6 separate regions of the Homo sapiens genome follow, and regions 1, 2, 3, 4 and 5 are each linked to region 6. The links come from fine-mapping of genetic effects on gene expression. A gene starts in region 6. Each other region holds a variant in brackets. All regions are shown on one strand. Distances are between the middles of the regions.

The links. PIP is the estimated chance that this variant, and not a neighbour inherited with it, causes the effect. A credible set is the group of variants that fine-mapping cannot tell apart.
Region 1: its variant is the best candidate, but not a certain one, in a credible set for the expression of NEB in whole blood (TOPMed, PIP 0.55).
Region 2: its variant is the best candidate, but not a certain one, in a credible set for the expression of NEB in prefrontal cortex (ROSMAP, PIP 0.51).
Region 3: its variant is the best candidate, but not a certain one, in a credible set for the expression of NEB in prefrontal cortex (ROSMAP, PIP 0.81).
Region 4: its variant is the best candidate, but not a certain one, in a credible set for the expression of NEB in adrenal gland (GTEx, PIP 0.74).
Region 5: its variant is the best candidate, but not a certain one, in a credible set for the expression of NEB in blood mononuclear cells (TOPMed, PIP 0.82).

The regions. Positions count from the first base shown.
Region 1 is chr2:151,776,184-151,780,276 of GRCh38, reverse strand. No RefSeq gene overlaps it. Among named protein-coding and RNA genes, the nearest start is that of NEB, 44 kb to the right of the region's middle. The variant T/G (reference allele first, on the strand shown) is at 2,457.
Region 2 is chr2:151,794,485-151,798,577 of GRCh38, reverse strand. No RefSeq gene overlaps it. Among named protein-coding and RNA genes, the nearest start is that of ARL5A, 32 kb to the left of the region's middle. The variant C/T (reference allele first, on the strand shown) is at 2,448.
Region 3 is chr2:151,696,199-151,700,291 of GRCh38, reverse strand. It overlaps NEB (nebulin), which reads left to right. Exons shown (of 182, transcript NM_001164508.2): 14 at 2,644-2,748; 15 at 2,835-2,942; 16 at 3,040-3,144; 17 at 3,557-3,655. Among named protein-coding and RNA genes, the nearest start is that of NEB, 36 kb to the left of the region's middle. The variant G/C (reference allele first, on the strand shown) is at 2,444.
Region 4 is chr2:151,623,529-151,627,621 of GRCh38, reverse strand. It overlaps NEB (nebulin), which reads left to right. Exons shown (of 182, transcript NM_001164508.2): 69 at 1-99; 70 at 417-620; 71 at 1,984-2,088. Among named protein-coding and RNA genes, the nearest start is that of NEB, 110 kb to the left of the region's middle. The variant T/C (reference allele first, on the strand shown) is at 2,159.
Region 5 is chr2:151,755,833-151,759,925 of GRCh38, reverse strand. No RefSeq gene overlaps it. Among named protein-coding and RNA genes, the nearest start is that of NEB, 23 kb to the right of the region's middle. The variant A/G (reference allele first, on the strand shown) is at 2,536.
Region 6 is chr2:151,732,374-151,736,466 of GRCh38, reverse strand. NEB (nebulin) reads left to right here and starts at 1,991. Exons shown (of 182, transcript NM_001164508.2): 1 at 1,991-2,069; 2 at 2,672-2,755; 3 at 3,282-3,346. The coding sequence starts at 3,311.

The DNA.
Region 1 (4,093 bases), 44 kb before region 6:
AAAGTGGCTTTCCAAAAGGGAGAGGGAGTAGGTGGTGGTGCTGTGAGGAGATAATAATGACCTTGCCCTTGGGCCCATCTCTGCAGGGGAGGTGGTGTAGGCTGGTGGTGATGGGTCCAGGGTTTCAGCTGGATTCAGTTTTGAATCTTCTCTTGATCTTGTTATATAATTTGGAGCAACTTACTCTGCCACCTCTCTTAGCTTCTCTTTTCTGCTTCACAACATCCACTTCATATGAGGATTAAATGAGGTCATACCAATGTGGGAAAAAGAAAATTCTCTTTAAAAACCTAATTTCAGATGATTTCATGTTAAAGGGACTCGACCAAGGAAAATGTATCCTTCTGTTTTGGGGCCATGTACTTCTAGAAGGCAAAGCCCCAGCTGCGTCTGGATGTAAGGTCAAGAGAAAGAGGGCAGTAACACTAACTGGCTCTGAGTAAGAAGGTGGGAGACTTTTACATTTTCTCTTTGAAACTCAAGAAAAGGAGTTTGGACCCTGGAACTGGAGGAAAAGGAGAGAGGAGGAAATGGCCAAAGTGATCTTTGCCAACAGGCTTGTTGGATGATGAAGTAAAGGTTGTTTTCTCTTTCACACTCTGGTTTTTTGTTACCTTTTCCCTAGTCTTCAGTGAAGCTTTACTACTTCCTTAGACTTGTATTAGCACCGCCTAGACTTGTATTAGCACGGGAAGGTCACATTCAGAGCAAGCTGAACAGAGAATCAAGTACAGAGTTTAGAGCAAGGAACAGGAGCGAGGGTGAGCGAGATCACCGGGAAAATGTAAGTTCCTCTCTGGAGCTCCTTGGAAACAGTAGAGAGAGAGCTGAGCTTCTCCTCGTTATCAATTTATTTACATTTTCTTGTCTTTGTATTTATTTGAGCCCAGATAACTGGAAGACTGGGGACAGGTGAAACATACTTCCCCACTGAGCATGTCTACTGCTACCACCTTAGTATAAGTTATCAACACTTGGCTTGGATGACTGCTATTGCCTTTTAACTAGTTTCTTTGAATCTTTTAGGTTTTTTTTTATTTTTTATACTTTAGATTCTGGGGTACATGTGCAGAACATGCAGGTTTGTTACATAGGTATACATGTGCCATGGTGGTTTGCTACACCCATCAACCCGTCACCTACATTAGGTATTTCTCTTAATGCTATCCCTCCCCAGCCCCCCACCCCCCAACAGGCCCCCATGTGTGGTGTTCCCCTCCCTGTGTCCATGTGCTCTCATTGTTCAACTCCCACTTACGAGTGAGAACATGTGGTGTTTGGTTTTCTGTTCCTGTGTTAGTTTGCTGAGAATGATGGTTTACAGCTTCATCCATGTCCCTGCAAAGGACATGAACTCATCCTTTTTTATGGCTGCATAGTATTCCATGGTGTATATGTGCCACATTTTCTTTATCCACTCTATCATTGATGGGCATTTGGGTTGGTTCCAAGTCTTTGCTATTGTGGATAGTGCCGCAATAAACATACGTGTGCATGTCTTTATAGTAGAATGATTTATAATCCACTGGGTTGGGTATATACCCAGTAATCGGATTGCTGAGTCAAGTGGCATTTCTAGTTCTAGATCCTTGAAGAATCACCACACTGTCTTCCACAATGGTTGAATTATTTTACACTCCCACCAACAGTGTAAAAGTGTTCCTGTTTCTCCGCATTCTCTCCAGCATCTGTTGTTTCCTGACTTTTTAATGATCGCCATTCTAACTGGCATGAGATAGTATCTCACTGTGGTTTTGATTTGCATTTCTCTAATAACCAGTGATGATGAGCTTTTTTTCATATGTTTGTTGGCTGCATAAATGTCTTCTTTTGAGAAGTGTCTATTTCCTTTGCCCACTTTTTGATGGGGTTGTTTTTTTCTTGTAAATTTGTTTAAGTTCTTTGTAGATTCTGGATATTAGCCCTTTGTCAGATGGATAGGTTGCAAAAGTTTTCTCCCATTCTGTAGGTTGCCTATTCACTCTAATGAACTCTCTCTTTTTTTTTTTTTTTTTTGAGACAGTCTCACTCTTTCACCCAGGCTGGAGTGCAGTGGTAAACTCTTTCTCTATTGCAATTCCCCTGCCTTGATAAATTGGCTCTATCTGGGAAGCCGGCAAGAACCCACAGGGTGTTTACATTACTATCTGTCTTCATGAAGGCAAAGGCTTTGATTTTCTTCATAAGCCCCATCATGCAGCTAGCACTTGGCTTAGTGACTAAACCCTCATAGGCACTCAACAGACATTTGAATAAACATGTCCTGGGCAGTGCTGTCCAATAGAAGTAAGATGTGTGCCACATATGTAATTTTAAATTGTTGAGTAGTTACATTCAAACGTAATAAGAAACAATAAAGTTAATTTTACTAATACATTTTAATTACCCAATATATCTAACATGTTACCACTGCAACATGTAATCAGTATAAAAATTATTGAGATATTTTACTTTTT[T/G]TGTGTTAAGTCTTCAAAATCCATCGTGTATTTTACATTCAGAGCACATCTCAATTTGTATTAGGTGCCTTGCAAGTGCTCCATAGCCTAAAGTAGCTAATGACTCCTGTACTGGACAGGGCAGGTCTGGAGCCTCCTAGTGTTCAATATATGCCAGTTGATAGATAATAGCACAATGCAAAGAATTGGAGAAAGAAAGTTTTATTCTGAAAGCTGCCGTACCCACTGGTTGATACGGTGACTATGAGACTTCATTCACCTGTTAACATCTGGAACAGCAGAAAGACCTAAAGTGCCCATGATGAATGAGTAAGGACACTGGACCAGGAGTGAGGTGAATATGCAAAAGCCTGTGTCTCCCAGAGCCCCAAAGAGACAGGAGAGCAGAGGACACCCAAAGAGCAACAGGCTTGTTGCACCAGTGGGAAGACACAGCAGGCAGCAGGCTTTGCTGAGGAGTCTGCCAACAGAGCATCTCAAAGTGCAAACCAGGCTGGGCACAGTGGCTCACTCTTGTAATCCCAGCACTTTGGGAGGCTGAGGTGGAAGGAGCACTTGAGCTCAGGAGTTCAAGACCAGCCCGGGCAACAAAGTGAAAAATCTTGTTGCTACAAAAAAATTTTAAAATTAGCCAGGTATGGTGGTATGTGTCTGTAGTCCCAGCTACTTGGGAGGCTGAGGTGGGAGGATCACTTGAGCCCAGGAGGTCAAGGCTACACTGAGCCATGATTGTGTCACTGCACTCCAGTCTGGCTGACAGAGCAAGACCCAGACACCAAAACATACCAAGGACTAAACTCTGACCATTTTTCTCTCTTGTCTAAATCCCTACCTAAGGGGTCAGAGAAGTCACACAGTACAAACAGAAAGTCTCAGAAGATGGATTTTATTTAACCCTATGTAACATGGATTACTTTCCAACTTGACTCTCATAACATCACATGACAGATGAAGAGGGAAACCAAAATGTTTTACCCCAAAAATATGTTTCATCACCATATTTAGAAATAGCTCTGTAAAGCTGTTTTTTTGGGGGGGAAATTTGCCTCTGTAAAGAATCTCCATTAACATAACTAGGTCTTTCCTCTACCAGGTCCTCCCAGTCTTGAAGAGATTAACTGAGAGTCTCGCACCTCTTAAAGGATTGAATAGGAAACATTTGCCATCTATGGTCTGAAAGGCCTGCCACCTATAGACTACTGGAAACTGCCTGCTTCACTGCATAGTAAGAACCTTGGAGCCACAACCCCTTATCTTAACCCAGACACTCCTTTCTATTGATCCCAGGTTTTTAGATAATAACTTAACTCTCAGCCAATCAGAAAATCTTTGAATCCACCTGTGACCTGTAAGTCCCCACCCTTCAAATTGTCCTGCCTTTTGGGACTTAACCAATGTATACCTCACATGTATTGATTGATGTCTTTTGTCTCCCTAAGACATATAAAACCAAGCTGCAACCCAACCACCTTGGGCACATGTTCTCAGGACCTCTTGAGACAGTGCTGTGGGCCATGGTCACTCATATTTGGCTCAAAATAAAACTCTTCAAATATTTTACAGACTTTGGCTCTTTTCACTGACAGTACTGTTCTGGGATTTGTCGTGGCAGGGTATGTGTCTTAGTCCATTTTTTA
Region 2 (4,093 bases), 62 kb before region 6:
GGACTGCAGGCGCCTGCCACTACGCCCGGCTAATGTTTTGTATTTTTAGTAGAGATGGGGTTTCACCGTGTTAGCCAGGATGGTCTCAATCTCCTGACCTCGTAATCTGCCCGCCTCAACCTCCTAAAGTGGTGGGATTACAGGTGTGAGCCACCGCGCCTGGCCTAAATAAAAAGTCTTGAAATGGAAGATATTCACCTAACCCTCAACAAACCATGATGTAATGAAGCACGAATCACACCATTTTGTCTCTTTCCTAATTCAAATAGGTCCCTGGCATTAGTTCATGCCGAGACTAGAAAACTGAACCCTAGTACTGTTTTTTAAAACAGTTTTAACAGAAAATTAAACTGTATGTTTGAAATCATAAGTAAAAGTTTGTTGCTTGCATAAGAGTAGCCTCTTGATTCTCATAGTGGTAATTTTGTGTCATATCATTTAGATGTTGAACCATTTCATTTGTGCATGTGTATATGTGCCCAAATTCATCCTCTTTGTTTAGAATCTGCTTACAAATAAAACTAATAGAATCTGAATACATTTATCATATATTCTTCCAGGGTTTTTCTTAACTGACTATAGAGAGTGGCTGTAAGTTCTGGGGCAAAGCTTGATTGTATTTTCAGTGATGTATAGTTACATTGTTTCATGTTAAAATCATCGTGCATGGAAAGTGAAATGTGCGTATGATTTTAAATTATTGTAATATGTACTATACCCTTCCCCTAAACTTCTTTCATTGATGATACACAGAATTCCTCTATTTTTGCTTGAAAATAGTCCTTTAGATTGGAGTAGCCTTTTCTTAGATCCCTCTATGGTTCCATGAGATGAGGTGATACCTGCAAAGCACTTTTAAAGATATTTTTTTAGGCTAATGTCCAAGATACAGCATTGAGGAGGCAGCTATGTCTAATGAGGGCTCTCTTGTTTGCTAGAGATGAGAGAAATGTATACTAATCATTTTAATTTGTACTTAAAATACATTTTACTAATCATATTGATTTTAAATATGACAAATTCTTCTAGTAGATACTAATCTTTCTTGTTTATCATATTGTCCTAGAGAAGCCTAGGTAAAAATGGGTTCCACCTAGTCTGTTTGTATAACACCTTCCCCCGTCCCCTCTCCATCCCTGCCAATTGGGCTCTATGCATATTGACAAGCAAATAAGAAAACCTTAGGTTTCTTGTATTTGAATTTCCAAAACAATAAAAGGTTTTGACTCAAGATTTGCATTCAAGAAGAGGCAGAAATTTTGTCTTATCTTTTTATCATTTTGTGAACTTGTGTTTCTCTGTATGCTTAGAAAATTTTACACACAAGGAATGTTTGAAAAAGTGAGAATTTTAGAGTGCTTGGGTGGTTTTTATTTGGTCAGTGCTGATGTGTTAGGTGTTTAGGGAAATAATGCTTCAGGACCTTTTTGACAACACAGCTTCATGAATGACTGGGGGATATTTATGTTTGTGCTGAGAAAAGGGAGGGAGTGGGCAGGTTGGAGTGGGGACCTTTCCATTGAAAGCAGTGCAGTCAGCTGTTTCGTAGATGCATTTTTTCTTTATGCTTGTAACATTGTTCTTGTGTCCATAATTGACTGAAATGTCAAGCTCCAGGAATGCAAGGCATTTATCAGGTGACCAGAAGTAGAACCTTGTTGATTATGAAATGGAAGAATAATGTCAAGGTAGTGGGGGTAAAATGACAAATGAGATTTTACTGGTGAATTTCCATGCTTAGTATGTACATTAACCTCTTTTTAAGTTGCATGTTAATCTGGTATAACGTATTGTGTCTGGTTTATGCTTTGAGTAAAAAGGAAAAAAAAAGACTTGAGTTACAATTGTTACTCTATTATGTACTATTACATATACCTTTTCTTTTAGAAAGGGTTAATTATAATTACTATTCACACCTCTGTGTTGTCAGTGTTTTTATTCTGGTTTATTCTCTAAACATACAGATTCAGTGTTGGAAAGACTGGGATCCACATGGTAATTGAAAAGGTATGACAGCTGCATTGTACAAATGACAGAAAGATTGTCTTGATCTTCTCTAGGAAACTTTTCTGGCACTTGGTCAATTTATAGAGTGCTCTCTATCTTGTATTTCTGAATGTTAGAATTGGAAATGAGCCTGACAAATAATGATCAGTTTGCATAGTTGATTTCTTTTAAAATCTGAGAAAAGTTCAGTCATTTAAAATGAATATTATTAAAGCGAACATTCATGAGCATAGTTGATAGTAAACAGAAGAAAAAAGGGAAAAAAGCAGGGAGAGAGGAGTCAGCCCCAGTGACATGCTGACTTGAATGTTGTGTTTGTCCCCTCCGCTAGAATGTAAGCCCCAGGATGGCAATTATATCTCTCTGTGCTGAACACAGTGCCTGGTATGTAACAGGTGTTCAATTTATATGTGTTGACGAATGAATGAATGGACTACTAA[C/T]GTTTTTGTTGTTTTTTTCTACCTCTTTTGTTCTCATAGGTAGGTTTTTTTTTTTGACCTATGTGATTGCAGCATACTGCCTCGTTTAATTCTTACGTAACACTTACCTCAATTCTCATTTAATTCTGCCTAACTTCAAAAGAGTTTTTAGGTGACTGTATGTTTTTCTCATTCATTCTTTCAGTAGAAATAGCACTTATTTCCTTAAAAATGGTCTAAAAGCATCATGCAGTGGCAGATATATACAAATTTTATGTATTTGAAATCTGTGTGGGCCTACATCAAGGAATGTAAGTAACATACCAGAGTTTGTTGTCAGCATCTGCAGATACTGAAATAGTAAATGGTATACCAGCTTTTTTGGAAAAACAGCTGTGTCATTTTATTCATCTTTTATGCTTGTTCTTCATTTTTTAATATCTGGAATATCCCCTTTTTGCTAGTAAATAACTTTTGTCCCATGAAATTGATGAGATTTTCACAACATTAGAATAACCTCTAACAGTCCTTTTGAATGTGTTCCTTATGATTGATTACCACCCTTTTGGGATTCCATGAGTTGGGATGCCTAGGTGACCCATTATTTTCATCATTACATACTTTGCATTCTAGCCAGTTATTCTATACCAAAATAGATGTTTACTGAAAAAATCTTTTTGAAACAATTCCAATATATTTAGATCCCCAAATTATATTCTACTGTATTTCCTATATTATTACAAATAACATTGCAATGGCCATCTACTTAGTGTGTTTTTTCATATTTAAAATTATTTCTTCTGGCTGTAATCTCAGGTGAAACTACTGGATTAAATGGTAGGATGGGATTTGAGGGTGCCTATTTCAAATTTTCACTATATGTTAAACAACAAAACCCTTTCCGATTTAATAGAGAGATAAGCATATTGTTATATTTTGCACCTATTTAGTTATTGAGACTATTTTTCTTTGCTGTTTTAATACCCTCTGAATTGTTCTTTTGCTTTATTCATTTATTATAATCTTGGTGTTCTTGTGAATAAATTAAATTCTTAAAACAGTAAATATAAGTATCATGTGCTAACCAATTTCACCACTGGAGCTCTGTTTAAATAGTGAATATATTATCTTTTGTCATGTTTTTGCAGATGTGTGTGCAAAACACATCCTAGTATACTGCTTAAATTTTTATAATTATCTTTTCAGCATATAAAGTGGTGTGTTTTTTGAGACAGAGTTTCACTCTGTCACCCAGGCTGGCGTGCAATGGTGTGATCTTGGTTCACTGCAACCTCCGCCTCCCAAGTTCAAGCAATTCTCCTGCGTCAGCCTCCCGAGTAGCTGGGATTACAGGCATGCATCACCATGCCTGGCTAATTTTTTTGTATTTTTGGTAGAGACAGAGTTTTGCCATCTTGGCCAGGCTGGTCTCGAACTCCTGGTCTAAAGTGATCTGTTCATCTCAGCCTCCCAAAGTGCTGGGATTACGGTTGTGAGTCACTGCACCTGGCCTAAAAAATTACAGCCAGGCTTGGTGACTCACACCTGTAATCCTAGCACTTTCAGAGGCTGAGGTGGGCGGATCACTTGAGGTCAAGAGTTTGAGACCAGCCTGTCCAATATGGTGAAACCCCCTCTCTACTAAAAATACAAAAAATTAGCTGGGT
Region 3 (4,093 bases), 36 kb after region 6:
CCTGACTTCAAACTATACTACAAGGCTACAGTAACCAAAACAGCATGGTACTGGTACCAAAACAGAGATATAGATCAATGGAACAGAACAGAGCCCTCAGAAATAACGCCGCATATCTACAACTATCTGATCTTTGACAAACCTGAGAAAAACAAGCAATGGGGAAAGGATTCCCTATTTAATAAATGGTGCTGGGAAAACTGGCTAGCCATATGTAGAAAGCTGAAACTGGATCCCTTCCTTACACCTTATACAAAAATCAATTCAAGATGGATTAAAGACTTAAACGTTAGACCTAAAACCATAAAAACCCTAGAAGAAAACCTAGGCATTACCATTCAGGACATAGGCATGGGCAAGGACTTCCTGTCTAAAACACCAAAAGCAATGGCAACAAAAGCCAAAATTGACAAATCGGATCTAATTAAACTAAAGAGCTTCTGCACAGCAAGAGAAACTACCATCAGAGTGAACAGGCAACCTACAAAATGGGAGAAAATTTTCGCAACCTACTCATCTGACAAAGGGCTAATATCCAGAATCTACAATGAACTCAAACAAATTTACAAGAAAAAAACAAACAACCCCATCAAAAAGTGGGCGAAGGACATGAACAGACACTTCTCAAAAGAAGACATTTATGCAGCCAAAAAACACATGAAAAAATGCTCATCATCACTGGCCATCAGAGAAATGCAAATCAAAACCACAATGAGATACCATCTCACACCAGTTAGAATGGCAATCATTAAAAAGTCAGGAAACAACAGGTGCTGGAGAGGATGTGGAGAAATAGGAACACTTTTACACTGTTGGTGGGACTGTAAACTAGTTCAACCATTGTGGAAGTCAGTGTGGCGATTCCTCAGGGATCTAGAAGTAGAAATACCATTTGACCCAGCCATCCCATTACTGGGTATATACCCAAAGGACTATAAATCATGCTGCTATAAAGACACATGCACACGTATGTTTATTGCGGCATTATTCACAATAGCAAAGACTTGGAACCAACCCAAATGTCCAACAATGATAGACTGGATTAAGAAAATGTGGCACATATACACCATGGAATACTATGCAGCCATAAAAAATGATGAGTTCATGTCCTTTGTAGGGACATGGATGAAACTGGAAATCATCATTCTCAGTAAACTATCGCAAGAACAAAAAACCAAACACCGCATATTCTCACTCATAGGTGGGAACTGAACAATGAGATCACATGGACACAGGAAGGGGAATATCACACTCTGGGGACTGTGGTGGGGAGGGGGGAGGGATAGCATTGGGAGATATACCTAATGCTAGATGACGAGTTAGTGGGTGCAGCGCACCAGCATGGCACATGTATACATATGTAACTAACCTGCACAATGTGCACATGTACCCTAAAACTTAAAGTATAATTAAAAAAAAAAAAAAAGAGATGGAGACCATCCTGGCTAACACAGTGAAACCCTGTCTCTACTAAAAATACAAAAAAATTAGCCGGGCATGGTGGCAGGCACCTGTAGTCCCAGCTACTCGGGAGGCTGAGGCAGGAGAATGGCATGAACCCAGGAGGCAGAGCTTGCAGTGAGCCGAGTTTGTGCCACTGCACTCCAGCCTGGGCAACAGAGGGAGACTCCATCTCAAAAAAAAAAAAAAAAAAAATTAATGAAGTACTGATACAGGGTACAACAAGGATGAAGCTTGAAAACATGCTAAGAGAGAAATCAGAAAGAAAAGATCACATTTCATGATTCAGTTTAACCATTTCAAAGTGTATAATTCAGTGGCATTAATTACATTTACAATGTTGCACAAATAATACCATCTCATTCCAGAATTTTTTTTAATCCCCCCAACCATAAACCTCATACCTATTCTCCCTTCTTTCCAGGCCTTGGCAACTACAGAGTTTTTGGTGTGTTTTTGTTTTGCTTTTTTGAGATGATGAAATGTTTTAAAATTGATTGTGGTGACAGTTGCACAACTCTGTAAACATACTAAAATCCATTGAATTGTATACTTTAAATTGGTGAATTGTGTGGTATATGCATTAAATCTCAATAAAGCTGTTACAAAAAAAAGAAAGAAAAAAAATTTTTTTGAGTTTGGAATGTATGAAACTTAGGCCTTATAATAATTGCTAACAGAACAGTCTTATAATTCATGACATTCCGTGTTCGATTGTCAGGTTTTTTTCTTTTTGTTTTGTTTTGTTTTGTTTTGTTTTGTTTTGAGACGGAGTCTCGCATTGTCGCCCGGGCTGGAGTGCAATGGCGCCATCTCGGCTCACTGCAACCTCCGCCTCCCGGGTTCAAGCAATTCTCCTGCCTCAGCCTCCCAAGTAGCTGGGATTACAGGCACCCGCCACCATGCCCAGGTAACTTTTTGTATTTTTAGTAGAGAGAGGGTTTCACTTTGTTGGCTAGGCTTGTCTCAAACTCCTGACCTC[G/C]TGATCCGCCCGCCTCGGCCTCCTAAAGTGCTGGGATTACAGGCGTGAGCCGCCGCACCTGGCCTCAATTGTCAGTTTTTAAGACAGTTGACAGGCGATATCTTTTCTTCATCTTTTGTTTAGTGTTAGAAAATGTAAGTGTTATAATCAGCGTGGGAGTGACAGGAATCTACTTTAACTGAATTTTTTTTCTTTGACAGAAACTATACAAGGAAAACTATGAAAAGACAAAAGCAAAGAGCATAAATTACTGCGAGACCCCCAAATTCAAGCTCGATACTGTTCTGCAGAACTTCAGTAGTGATGTAAGCAATCCTACTGTCACTCTTTCTGTTAAAAAAAGAACCCATTATTTCACCAATTAATAAATGAAGTATGTTTTGTCTTGCAGAAAAAATATAAAGATTCCTACTTAAAAGATATTTTGGGACATTATGTAGGCAGCTTCGAGGATCCATACCATTCACACTGCATGAAAGTCACAGCTCAAAACAGTGATGTAAGTTCTAAGACAATTGTTTGACTTTCCAAATAACATTTTTCTCAGGGCATGAATACAATGGCTGCATCTTATGCCTAATTTCTTCTCCTCATAGAAAAACTACAAAGCAGAATACGAAGAAGACAGAGGCAAAGGCTTCTTCCCTCAGACCATAACTCAAGAATATGAAGCAATTAAGAAACTAGATCAGTGTAAAGACGTAAGTCTGTAGTCTGAACTTTGAATGTGACTGCCTTCCATAGCATCTAGTGGTCAGGATATGTTTAAAATGTTGCCACTTTTACAAATAAATGTAAGCCAGGCAATCGCAAGAAATGAAGTCTATTTTGTAGTAAACATCCTATTTTCCCTTGTTGACATCCCTACATTTTAAGAGGTAATTCTAGCTCATTTTCCCAAAGAAGAGTTATTGGAAACCCGAAGATATAGGAAAGTTTCTCATACAGATATAAGAGCACCTCTCAAACTACAGTCTAGTTAGAAAAAAATATATTTTATTAACTACAAGTTTCATTGCTTTGTGGGGCATGAGGTTCTATTTGCTTGGCCTGTGGGCCACCTTGGATCTGACAGGTGATACTACTAAACCAAATGCCTTTGCTTCCCCACAGCACACCTACAAAGTCCATCCAGATAAGACAAAATTCACCCAAGTTACAGACTCTCCTGTTCTGCTACAAGCCCAAGTCAATTCCAAACAACTGAGTGACGTAAGTTCCTCTAACTACTCAGGACACCCAATTATGAGGGATAACATTTCATAACTCTATACATAAAATCCAATGACTTATCAAGTTTATTCAAAAGGCTAAGTAAGTATTAGCAAGTTTAAACAGTATACATTTGTATAAAAATATATTTCTGCATTTTCTTGGGTGGATAAAATTTACAGTGAAACAATTCTGTGAAGGAAACAAATGTAGCTTAAAGCAATGGAAAGAACATGAGTTCTAGAGTCAAACAAAACCGCATTCAAATGTTAGCTCTGTCATTGATGTCTGGGTGGCCAAAGATTTAACCCCCCTCTGCCTGATATTTCCATTTTATAATTTGTGGCTGTTTTGAAGAGTAAGTGAAGGAAGAAATATGCACTGCACATACCCTGGCCAACAGCAGGTATTCAGTACATGAATTTCTCTCTCCCTAGT
Region 4 (4,093 bases), 110 kb after region 6:
AGCGATGTGGACTACAAGAACTACCTGCACGAGTGGACGTGCCTGCCCGACCAGAATGATGTCATCCATGCTCGGCAGGCCTATGACCTCCAGAGCGATGTGAGTAATTAAGATCCATGGTAACTGTGCTCATAATAGTAATTCATAGAAATACTGAGACAGTGGTCTAGCATTAGGTAGAACCTTCAGAAGGGATGACATTTCTTCTCTCTGCTCATTTTTTAGGCAACTCTTCCCCTTACTTTTTTTGGAGAGAAAGAAAGTAATACCTGAGACTGTATTCAATTTGGCCTTCATATATTGAAGAACGTATACATGAAATTTGACTATCCAAGCTTTCTAGTGTTATTTTTTTATTTTTGAAATCATGTTAAAACAACTTCAGTAATACTCGCTTTTGTGTTTAATCTCTCCAGAACATTTACAAATCTGATCTCCAGTGGCTGAGAGGCATTGGCTGGGTCCCCATTGGGTCTATGGATGTGGTCAAGTGCAAGAGAGCTGCTGAAATACTGAGTGATAACATCTACCGCCAGCCTCCGGACAAGCTGAAATTTACCAGTGTGACTGACTCTCTAGAGCAGGTGCTGGCCAAGAACAATGCTCTCAATATGAACAAGGTGAGCCCCCAATTTGTAGGAAAATAAGACAGGGCTATATGTCATTCAAGATACCTATTGTTAATTAAGTTAGTCTCTTTTTTAAATCCAATTAAATTGCTATCCAATGTATAGTGATTCAGTTGAATTCTCTATTCTGTTAGATAACAATATATGGGAGCATTTCTGCTTTGACATCTCTTGTGAAATAGCCAGAGTTAAGAATGGCACAGCTCTTTGGGAGGCCAAGGCAGGCGGATCATGAGGTCAGGAGATCGAGACCACGGTGAAACCCTGTCTCTACTAAAAATACAAAAAATTAGCCGGGCATGGTGGCAGACGCCTGTAGTCCCAGCTACTCAAGAGGCTGAGGCAGGAGAATGGTGTGAACCTGAGAGGCGGAGCTCGTAGTGAGCTGAGATCGCGCCACTGCACTCCAGCCTGGGCGACAGAGCAAGATTCCGTCTCAAAAAAAAAAAAGAATGGGACAGCTATTATGGGTTCAAATTGTTTGAAGTCTATAAGAGTTAGTTATATATGATTTGGTATGGTTTCTTTCTTGCTGAGTACTTATTTAGGTAAGCACAGAGCAAACAAGAAAGATGCAAGCCGGGCATGGTGTCTCACACCTGTAATCTCAACACTTTTGGGAGGCTGAGGTGGGCAGATCACTTGAGCTCAGCAGTTTGAGATTAGCCTGGGCAGCATGTTGAAACCCTGTCTCTACAAAAAATACAAAAGTTAGCCGGGTGTGGTGACACGCACCTCTAGTCTTAGGTACTTGGGAGGCTGAGGTGGGAGGATCACCTGAGCCTGGAGAGGTTGAGGCTGCAGTGAGCTGTGACTGTACCACTACATTCCAGCCTGGGCAAGAGAGTGAAACTCTGTCTCATAAAAAAAAAAAAAAAGAAAGATGCAAATCTTCATAACATTTATCAAAAAGAAATCTAGAGATAGCACATACAGGTACATTTGCAGCTAATAAACTAACAACAAACAGCATCAAACAAATAAAATCATGGGAAGGATTTGTTAATATAGTCATACTACAGATATGGATGTGAATATATGCTTGAGAAATACTTGCTTTTTATTTAATTGGGGTGAGAGTGACCTGGTTACCAAACACACACACGTGGGTGTGTATATGTGTGTGTGTGTTTGATTATATGTATATATATATTTTTCTTTTCATATCTTAGTATACATTTATATTTTGTTACAATAAATGTCTTGTAAAATCAAAGAGGTTGAAAAGAATATTAACATACATGGAACAGACAGCAAGAAAGCTGGCTCTCAACTTTGTCATGGTGTCTTAATTGAAAACTCCTGTTTACAACAAACTGTTTTTCTAATTCATTAACCTTTTTATCCTTCACAGCGCTTATACACAGAAGCCTGGGACAAAGACAAGACCCAAGTCCATATTATGCCTGATACACCTGAAATCATGTTGGCAAGACAAAATAAAATAAATTATAGTGAGGTAAGATCATTTGTTTTATTTCTTTGGTCTGGCCACATTGATTGTTGCCGATGTAGGAATGTGAGAATTA[T/C]GAAATTAATCCTCATGTAAGCCAGTTAGCTTAGTTGGCTTTTTATGCCATTTACCCTACCTTGAATATACATATTATTGTATTAAAAAATAGGCAGATAGAAAGGTAGATAGATTAGACAGACAGATAGACAGACAGACACAAAAATATCTTCATTTCAGGAGGGAAAAAATATCTCAAGTCAACTATTAATGACTAAAACATAATTTTCATTAAAAATAATTCTTGCTATTCATCAAATTAGTACTTGCTTCAAAATTTGTGCGGCAAGTTTATTTTCTTCAATTACCTCATCTGTAAAATAGGATTAAAATGCTTACCTTAAAGAATTTTTAAAGAATGACTAAATGAGGTAAAATATTTAACATGCCCAGTGTGAAGCCTGGTGCAAAGTATTTGTTTAATAAACTTTAATGTCTCTCCTTTATGCTCAAGTCACCATGAAAATTAGATGTATTTAATGTGCTCAAAATAACTTGAGCTTTATTTACAAGAACTGAAATGAGAATTCTTAAATTCACCCATTTCAAATTGCCTGAGAACAATAAAATACATTCTTTTATGAACTATCTTCAGCCTTGCTAAACTTGTCATTGCATATCTTTGCAGTCCAGAAATACTGCTGCATAAATAGCGTCTTGCTCAATTGTTCTTGCCAAAGTCAAAAATGTATATGGTTGATTCAAGAAGGATACTAATTTTTTAAACATGTCTATGTGTCTTCATTTTTTTTTAGAGAAAAAGGAAGGCAGAGTTGTCTTCAGTTTGAGAGCACTGAAAAATTTAAGTACTAATTTTTAAGATGACCAAATTTATTACTTTACCCATAATAATTACTTTTGCCTATAATAATGTAGCCTTAAAAAATGGAGAGGGTATGATTTCACTTTCTCCAGCATTATAAAACAGACCAAAGGACAAGCCTGATTATAGATATTTGATTGGCCTTGGCTTCAGTCACTTTTGAATGGGCCATTTTCTCTTGGCCACAGAGCTTCTCAGTTGGATTATCTTCTCCCAGGAGGTTTATTTTATCCAAGGCAGATGAAGTTAGTTTCTATTCCAGATTATAATGAAGCTCTTAATCCTCTCTCATTTGTTTACATTAGGGGAACTGAAGTAGATTTTTTTTTCAGACTGCTGCAAGGATATTGGGCTATTTTTTAATTCTAAAATTTTCAGCTGGATTTACTTTCTTTAAAATTGCATGATCATGCATTGAAGGCTTTGACTTCACCACAGTGCAATATATTAATGTAGCAAAATTGCACTCATCCCCCATGAATACATACAAATAAATAAAAATAAAATTGCATAATGATGTTGATTCTCTGAGGAATCTAAGATCACATTTCAGAATGGCCCACTAGAATTTCTTCTCAACCCATTGCCCGTGGTTCCTTCATTGCATAAATGTAAAACAAAACAAACACATCTGTTTTTTTCCTCTTAAATTCTCATTTACTTATTTTAGTTTTCTTAAGTAACAAGCTTTAAAATACATCCCTGATGATAGCTAAAAGTGTTCTCTCCTTTGAAGCACTGCATCTTTTTTAAATGCTGAAAGAATTAAAGAACTCTATTTTTTTGGCCTGAAGCCATGAGATGATTGAAGCACATTTTTTCCCACTTATACCATTTTTAAAATATGAACATTTATTCCTAAAGAAAAAATGTAATAAATAAAGTATTTGACCTTCCAGTTTCAAAAGAAACATTCCTAGAAATTTTGAAGAAAAACAGATTCCCTCTGGAATTTATCTCAAAGATATTAAATTGATTCTTATTTTTACTTTAGCTTTTTCTTATAAAATCTCATCTTGAAAAGACTATAAACTGACACATCTTAATAATCCACTTTATAAACATAATAGTGACCCTGTAAGAGTCTTAAGTCATTAAAAATATTAAAAAATATTAAATGCATCTGTAGCA
Region 5 (4,093 bases), 23 kb before region 6:
GGTTACTTGTATAAGGCCACACTGTTAGTATCTTTTTTATTTTATTTTATTTTTTTAAGACAAGGTCTCACTCTGTCACCCAGGCTGGAGTGCAGTGGCACAATCACGGCTCACTGAATCCTTGACCTCCCAGGCTCAAGTGATCCTCCCACCTCAGCTTCCCAAGTAGCTAGGACCACAGGTACACACCACCATGCCCAGCTAATTTTTTTTTTTTGTAAAGATAGGGTCTCCCCATGTTGCCAAGGCTGGTCTTGAACTCTTGGTCTCAAGTGGTCCTCCTGTCTTGGCCTCCCAAAGTGCTGTGATTACAGACATGAGCCACCATGCCCATCCAACACTGTTAGTATCTTTGCAGACCCTGGCAACCCACTCTCAGGTGCTCTGACCCCAGCAACAGGAATTTTCATCACTCTGGCCCTGTCCTGCTCTGTTTGGGAATGCTATGACAAAATATCATAGACTGGGTGGTTTAAAAACAACAAACATTTATTGCTTACAGTTCTGGGGGCTGGGAGTTCCAAGATCCAGGTGCTGGCAGATTTGGTGTCTGCTGAGGGCCCTAGTTCAGAGTCTTCTTGGTTCAGAGATAGCCATCTTTTCAATGTGACCTCACATGGCAGACAGGACAAGTGAACTCCCTCAATCCTCTTTTATAAATAGCAGTAACCCCACTCATGAAAGCCTCATGACCTAATCAACCCCCAAAGGCCCATCTCCAAATATCCTTTAAAAAAAAATTTTTTTTTAATAGAGATGAAGCCTCACTGCATTGACCAGGATGGTCTCAAACTCCTGGCCTCAAGTGATTCTCCCACCTCGGTCTCCCAAAGTGCTGGGATTAAAGGCATAAGCCACCACACCCAGCCCAAATATCCTTACACTGGGTATTATGTTTCAGCACGTGAATTTAGTGGGGCATAAACATTCAGACCATACTTGCCCTGTGGAGGATGATGAGTGGATGGATGGATGATGACCTATGGAGGATGATGGGTGGATGGATGGATGGACAATAGAGCAACAGACTGATCCCGGCACAGAGAGCTTGATTGGCCTGCTCAAGGACATGTCAGGCCCTTCAAGTACACACAGTCACAGACATGCCTGTGAGGGAGCAGCACACAGGGGCAAGGAGTTTGGACTCTGAGTGACACTACCTGAGTTTAAATCCCAGTACCATCACTCGCAAGTTGTGTAACCTGGGGCCAGTTTTTTCCACATCTGTGTGCCTCAGTTTTCTTATGTAGAGAGGTAGAATTATCATAATATCTTACTCATGAGATGTTAAGAGAAGTAAATAAAATTAGGCTTGTTGAGGCTGGGTACAGTGACTCACGCCTGTAATCCCAGCACTTTGGGAGGCTAAGGCGGGTGGATCAGTTGAGGTTGGGAGTTCAAGACCAGCCTGGCCAACATGGTGAAACCTCATCTCTACTAAAAATACAAAATTTAACTGGGTATGGTGGCACATGCCTGTAATCCCAGCTACTCCGGAGGCTGAGGCAGGAGAAACTCTTGAAGCCGGGAGGCAGAGGTTGCAGTGAGCCAAGATCACACCACTGCACTCCAGCCTGGGTGACAGAGAGAGACTCCATCTCAAAAAAAAAAAAAAAAAAAAAAAAAAAATAGGCTTGTTAATCTCTTAGATAAGGGTCTGGCAAAAAAAAAAATAGTGCTCTCTGAATGTTGGCTAGTATAATTATTACATTTTTTTTTTAACAACAATACCTTACTTTTGCCTTATGCCAAACCTTTCAAAGCCTGTGGGAAATGTTTTCTCATGTGAGCCTGGACCAGTGCCATGTAGTAGACAAGGCAAATATTTATGTCTAGTTTACAAAGGAGTTCATTTCGAAGAGTTCAGGAACATGAGAAATCCTAGAGCCAGGGATGGTAGATGCAGAAGCCAGGTGGGCTGACTAAGCCTGGAGGGTAAGAACTGCCCTGGGGAATACTGTGAAAGATGAGAAAAATCTGTCTTTAGCTCTGCCCCCCTTCACCCTTCACTGCTGCAGCCTGAATTGCTTTCAGCTATGGTCCCCTCTGAGCTCTGATATTGCTGTAAAGGGCTGTTTTTCACAAGCCCATTGCTTGTTTAAGCAGGGCCACTGGAGGGACCTCAAAAACCCTGCAGAATTTACTTGTGATGGAGTTATTCAGGCACTTCTTGAAACACTTGAGGAACTTAACACATTGGCTTTCTAGACAGGTAACTCTAGCAGCTGATGGAGAATAGTTGGAGGCCTGGATTCAGGGAGACGAGTAGGGAGGCTGTATTGATAATTCAGGTGAGAAATATTGATTGGTCTGAATTAAAGCACTAGCAATGGAGGAGAAGAAAAGAGGCTAGCACGAGGAGAGGTAGGAGGTAGTGCTGAGAGTTGACTGAATGAATGTGGAAGATAATGGGGAGCTGGGGTTGGAGCTGACAGGAAATACTTCATAGAGCAGCGGTTCTCAAGCTTTTTTTGTTTTAACATCAGAATCACTTGGTGGGCTTGTGAAAATAGAGATTGCTGGGCCCCTACCCAA[A/G]AGTGGGTGAGGGCTCTCTTCATAGTTCGAAGACAGCCATCTTCCTCTTGTATCCTCACAGGTGTGGTCCCAGAACCAGCAGCATTAGGATCACCTGGGAACTTGTTAAAAAAATGCAAATTTGTGGGCCCCTCTTTTGGGTAGGGGCTCAGCAATCTCTATTTCTCCACCCCACCTCAACTCACTTTATTGGCTTTCTCTTTATCTAGTTGCACAAAATGGGAGTGAATGCAAAGTCACAAGGCCCATTGCTGCTTTGCCATGGCCACCTAATGGTTCAGACCAGGAACATTATCAGGAACCACTATCCTAGAGAACAGCGTGGTTAGGTTTCAATGTAGCTTCTAGGAAGGAATTAGATGCAGATGGGCTGAGAAGATGGAGGAAAGCATGTTAGGTGGGCTAAATGGCATGGACAGTCAGTAATATGAGACTGTGTCCTGCCTGTTCAAGTGGCCTCTTGAGGGCCTGAGTGTGGTAGAGATAAGACTTTTTAAATAACCAGTGCCTTTGCAGTGTATCTGTTTGTGAGCGCTTCCCTTGCTCATGTTGTGATATAGCCATTGGATTTAATGAGTCTTAGTGTGAGTTGTTTCAGATTCAGATGCCAAGAGGATTTAAATGAAATTAAGAAGTGCAGGCAACTCCAGAAAAGAAAGGCATGTTGTACAGGGAAGAGAAGGTGGAGTCACAAAGCCACAGGAAAACTGGGGTAAGTGCAAAGCTCAAAATGATCCCAACCAAGGTGGGAGGCTGCTGGGGTATTAATACAATAACTCTTGAGAGTCATGATTGAGTGCTATATTTGGTGACAGGTGAGGTGTGTTAATTCCTTAGCACTTCTGGTCTGCAGCTTGCTTCCCTGAGTCCTGGGGAAAGAGCCGCAGGCACAGAGATGCAGGTGCTAGCTTTATAAATGGTGGGAATATATTCAAAGGTCCAGGGGAAGACTGTACATAAACACCATCTGGGGTTACCTCTAGCTAAATGCCAATAATGGTCTCTGTTAGGGCTCCTGGTCTGAACCTTTAAGTGGCTATGGCAAAGCAACAATGGGCCTTGTGACCCTGTGTTCATTCTCATTTTGTGCAACTAGAGAAAGAGAAAGCCACTAAGGTGAGTTAAGCTGGGATGGGGAGGAGGATTCCTTTTGGTATTCTAAGGATGTCAGGTATTTAGCCTGTGGAAATAGTGCATTTTAATCTTCCTTACATGTGGGACTATTTTTCTTATTCCAGGAAGTAGAAGTCAGTTCCAAACTGCTAATCAGGTCCTGGGTTTGTTTTGGATATTCACTTGAGATTAGCACATTACTAGTTTATTATCTCATTTTTCTCACTAAAAAATACCATACCTTGGATAGTCTTTTAGAATACTATTAGTCAGTTTGAGCTGCTATACCAAGATACGATAGACTGAGAGGCTTGAACAACAGAAATGTATTTCTCATAGTTCAGAAGGCTGGGAAGTCCAAGATCAAGGTGCTGGCAGATTTAGAGTCTGGTGAGAGCTCTCTTCATGGTTTGCAGATGGCAGTCTTCTGATTAATTCATCACTT
Region 6 (4,093 bases):
AATAATCCCTAAGGATATTGAGATGTGTATACATAGGAACCCTCATTCTCTGTTAGTGAAACATAAAATAGTGTAAGGATTTTGACTGGCAACTTGACAATATCTATCAATTTTCAAAATGTGCATATATCTTCTGCCTCAGTATTTCTATTTCTAGAAATTTACCTTACAGATACATTTCATATAAGTATACAAAGGTAATGTACAGGGATGCTTACTGTGTGTTTTGTTTCGCATTGTTTTGCTTTATTTTGTAATAGCAAAAACCTCGAAACAACCTAGATGTCCATTAATAATGATTAAACTATTATACTCTATCCAATCAATAGAATTATTTGTGGAAATTAGAGTAGGATATGTTTATGTGATGTTTCATAAAAATGTCTATTGCATATTAAGTATATCGATTTATGTCAATATCTATATTGAAAATATCTGAAACTTAAAAATGACTAAGAAGGTCAATGCTCATTTTTTACTTTATATAATTTTGTACTCTATGTTTTTAAAGTATGGGCCTGTATTATTTTTTAATTCAACAACACATTTTAAAGCATGTAATGACTAGTAAGTCACAATTCTAGTTTGCAGCTACCAAGTGAGTGATCTCATATTACATAAATATCCTTTGGTCATAAGACCTGTGAGAACATACAAGATGAACAGGTATAATCAGTTAAGATGATAAAATTCTGTTAGATTTTATTTACTACCATGTGAATCATGGAGGGGGAAAAGGTACATGTATTTGAAATATGAGATTACTTTCTCAAACTCCTGGCCTCAGACAATCTGCCCGCCTCGGCCTCCCAAAGTGTTGGGATTACAGGCGTGAGCCACCACGCCCAGCGAGATTACTTTCTAATGTTTAACTTAAAAAAGAAAAAATATTACAATATGTTTAATCTCAAATCCATATCAAGATATAGGTGACTCACAGGGTTTTGCCTGAATACAGGAGCAACCCAGAGAAAGAGCAGTTCTCTGTCACATAAGAGCCTGTGATTTCTGTCGCTGTGTGTAAGGACAGACAGACAGACAGATAGAATTAGATTTTAAATTAGAAAAAATACTTCAGGAGCAAAGAAAGTGCAAGAAAGACATCAGGCAAGTTTTAAGAAAATGGTTAGATAATTTTTATGAAGGAAATGTCTTACGTTCGGATTTGCCAAATAGGGCATTATTTTCTCCTGATAAGTTACTGATTTCCATGTTATCTGCTCTTGCTGTTCAGAAATTGAGCCTGTTTGTGTCCGCATTCACACGTTGCTTCTGGGAGCCAGGAGTCATCTGAGTTAATAGAAAAATCACTAACTCGGTTACATATGAGAGAGGTTCTGTATTCCTAGCAGCTTGCCTTATCTAAGGAGGGAGAAGGTGCTAAATAGGATTTTGGTATACCCTCTTGGTTTAGTAACAGAAAAATGATGGGGTCTAATCTTTCTAATTACACCCTGTGGATATCTTATTTAGTGCCATTGTCAAATATTTTCACCTTTAACTTCACTCATCACATTTTTAAAAATTGCTTTTGTCAACTTGATGTTTACTGGGTCTTATTCCTCAGTTTCTTTCACACTAGCACCAGTAACTTACCTGTAGCTCACCTGGTGAACCTTACCAGAGTGAGTACATTTACCACCATGACTGGACAAATGACATGAAGAAAGCAGTCACGGAAGGGTTAAAGCCTCTCAAAGTCATGCTTATTTTCTACTAAATTCTTTTGCATGAATATGACATTGAATGGGGCCTCAGTAAATGGGAAATTCAACCTAAAATTGAACTGCACAGGCTGGAAGTTAGGTAAAATTTGATTCCATTTGAATTGTTCTAAGCAAGCAATTTGTTACCCTTTATCCTTTAGTGGAATTGATGAACAGGTGGTTTTCAGAAGATCACTTGGTAAATTTAGCTTCTGAAATTTGAGCAACTCAAGATCTGATTGGTTGCTCTTGCCACATGATAATTCGGAGCCCAGGCATCACGCTGGCTTTTGCCTGGGGTTCTCAGGAGGGGAGAGTTGGGAGAGGCTTTGCTGCTGAGGAAATTTATTTGGTAGATTGAAGGTAAGGCCAGTTTATGACTTTTTCTGTAATACTCTTTCAGGAGATGCTCCACAACTTCCCTCGAAGTATTTTTCAAAGGTTTGGGCCATAACTGAGGAAATTAGTGGTAGAAATATGGCTAGGAGAGTTTAACCCCATTGCCCTACTAAGGCCCTACTAATATCTGCTATGTACCGTGTGTGATTAGAGTCAAGTCCTTTGCTAACCAATTTATTGCTTGACTGAATTGGCTCTCTTGTCTAACATTTTTTTGCCTTTGATATTTTTCTCTAAATATATTAGTGTGAAAAAGAAGATACGCTGCTCTACGTTCCTATATTTATCCTGTTCTACTGGGCTTCATTTGCCTGAGGAGTGGCAGTTTCGCTAGCTTAACAAAACCAGCCACTGCAGGGTATTGGTTTACATGGCAAACATCTTTGGATGAAGGGACAGCTGTTCCAACTCATCATCCACTTCATATCAAGAGTCTTACTCTCTGGCGTCAAACTGTAGAGGCCTTGAGAGATCCTTTCGCTGTTTTCTGCATTAGAAGCTTAGGCTAAGGACTGACAATCCTATATGTACCTCAATCAATGCTTTACAACTTTGTTATTTTTCAGGTTTGAACGAGAGCTACAGAAACGAAAGAAAAAGTCTGTATAAGCCAATGGTGTTCGGGAAGAAAATAACCCCATTGCCTTGAGGTTTCTTTTTTTCTTTTAAAATTTATTGACAGATGTATTTTTATGGGTTCCAATTTGAAGCCTAAGATATATTGCAAACAGTGGATCAGGGCAGTATGGAAAACTAAGTCAGCCCTCTTAGAATTTTGGTGCTGGGGGATAAATTTCAGCTTCTTCTGAAACCCAAGCTGACCTTTCACTAAAATTTTTGCTGGAAAATGTCTTTTCTCTAAGTGTTTGGAAGTTTAAATTCTCTGTTCCCTGAGTCCAAACTCTCTCACTTCCTTACCTCAATTTCGTTTTACAATTTTAACTAAACTGATTATGTAGAAGTAGCAATTCCCAACACTGAAGGAATAAAGAGAAAGAAATTTGAAGCTTCTGCTGTTTATACTTGTATTTTAAATGTCTTCTCTCCTTTAGCCTGCAACAATATATGAATTTGTACAATAGTTTAGCTTCAAATTCTATTTTTATAATGTCATAAGATAATTTCTGTGCTGGGAATAGACTCTAATATGTTTTCATTTGTATGGAATATGAAAAGTTTGTAGGTGCCACTACTACTCTGGAAAAATGGCAGATGACGAAGACTATGAGGAGGTGGTGGAGGTAAGATTTAAAAAAAAAACACTGACAGCAAACTATTTTATGTAGTGACAATCAAAGCTGTGTAGGTGAATTAATCATTCGAAAAATACATTGTCTATTATAACTTCACAAAGAGTCATCATTTAAAGCATAAGAAAGGAATATTTTATGTTCAGTTTCACTATAATTATGTGGGATTTAGAATTGACAGGAAATATCACTGTTTCCCACTTTTGCTTTTCTTTAAGCTCTCAAAAAACCAAGTTGGAGTAAAGGCAGGTTTTAATTCGTCTTCTAAAACTGCTTTCTTCCCCACTTCCCAACCCCGATGTTCAAAGGGACAGAGACGAAGAGAAAGTTCTGAAAATGGAACTCTGTCTCTTAGTATCTGTATAGCAATAGAAGAAAAGATCTACTCCTTATTCTTTGCTTCAACTAGCTAATCATCTATAGGGTAACATGGGTTAGATATTCAGAATAATCATATGTATGAAATTATATGCAGATGTGAGACTTTATACATAATACATACACATGTGCACAGACACACACATACAAGCAAATATAAATAAAGGCATGAAGGTCACAGCGATTGTTGGAGCCACACCTTCCTACCAACTTCATTATATTTACCCAAGTCAACAAGACTAGCTTTTGCTTTTGAATTTTGAATAAGAACAAAGACTATAGTGGGTATCTTGAAAATTTTCCTTCCAATTATTAGTGGACATCTAACACATTTTACAAAGCTGTTAATCATTTATTTTA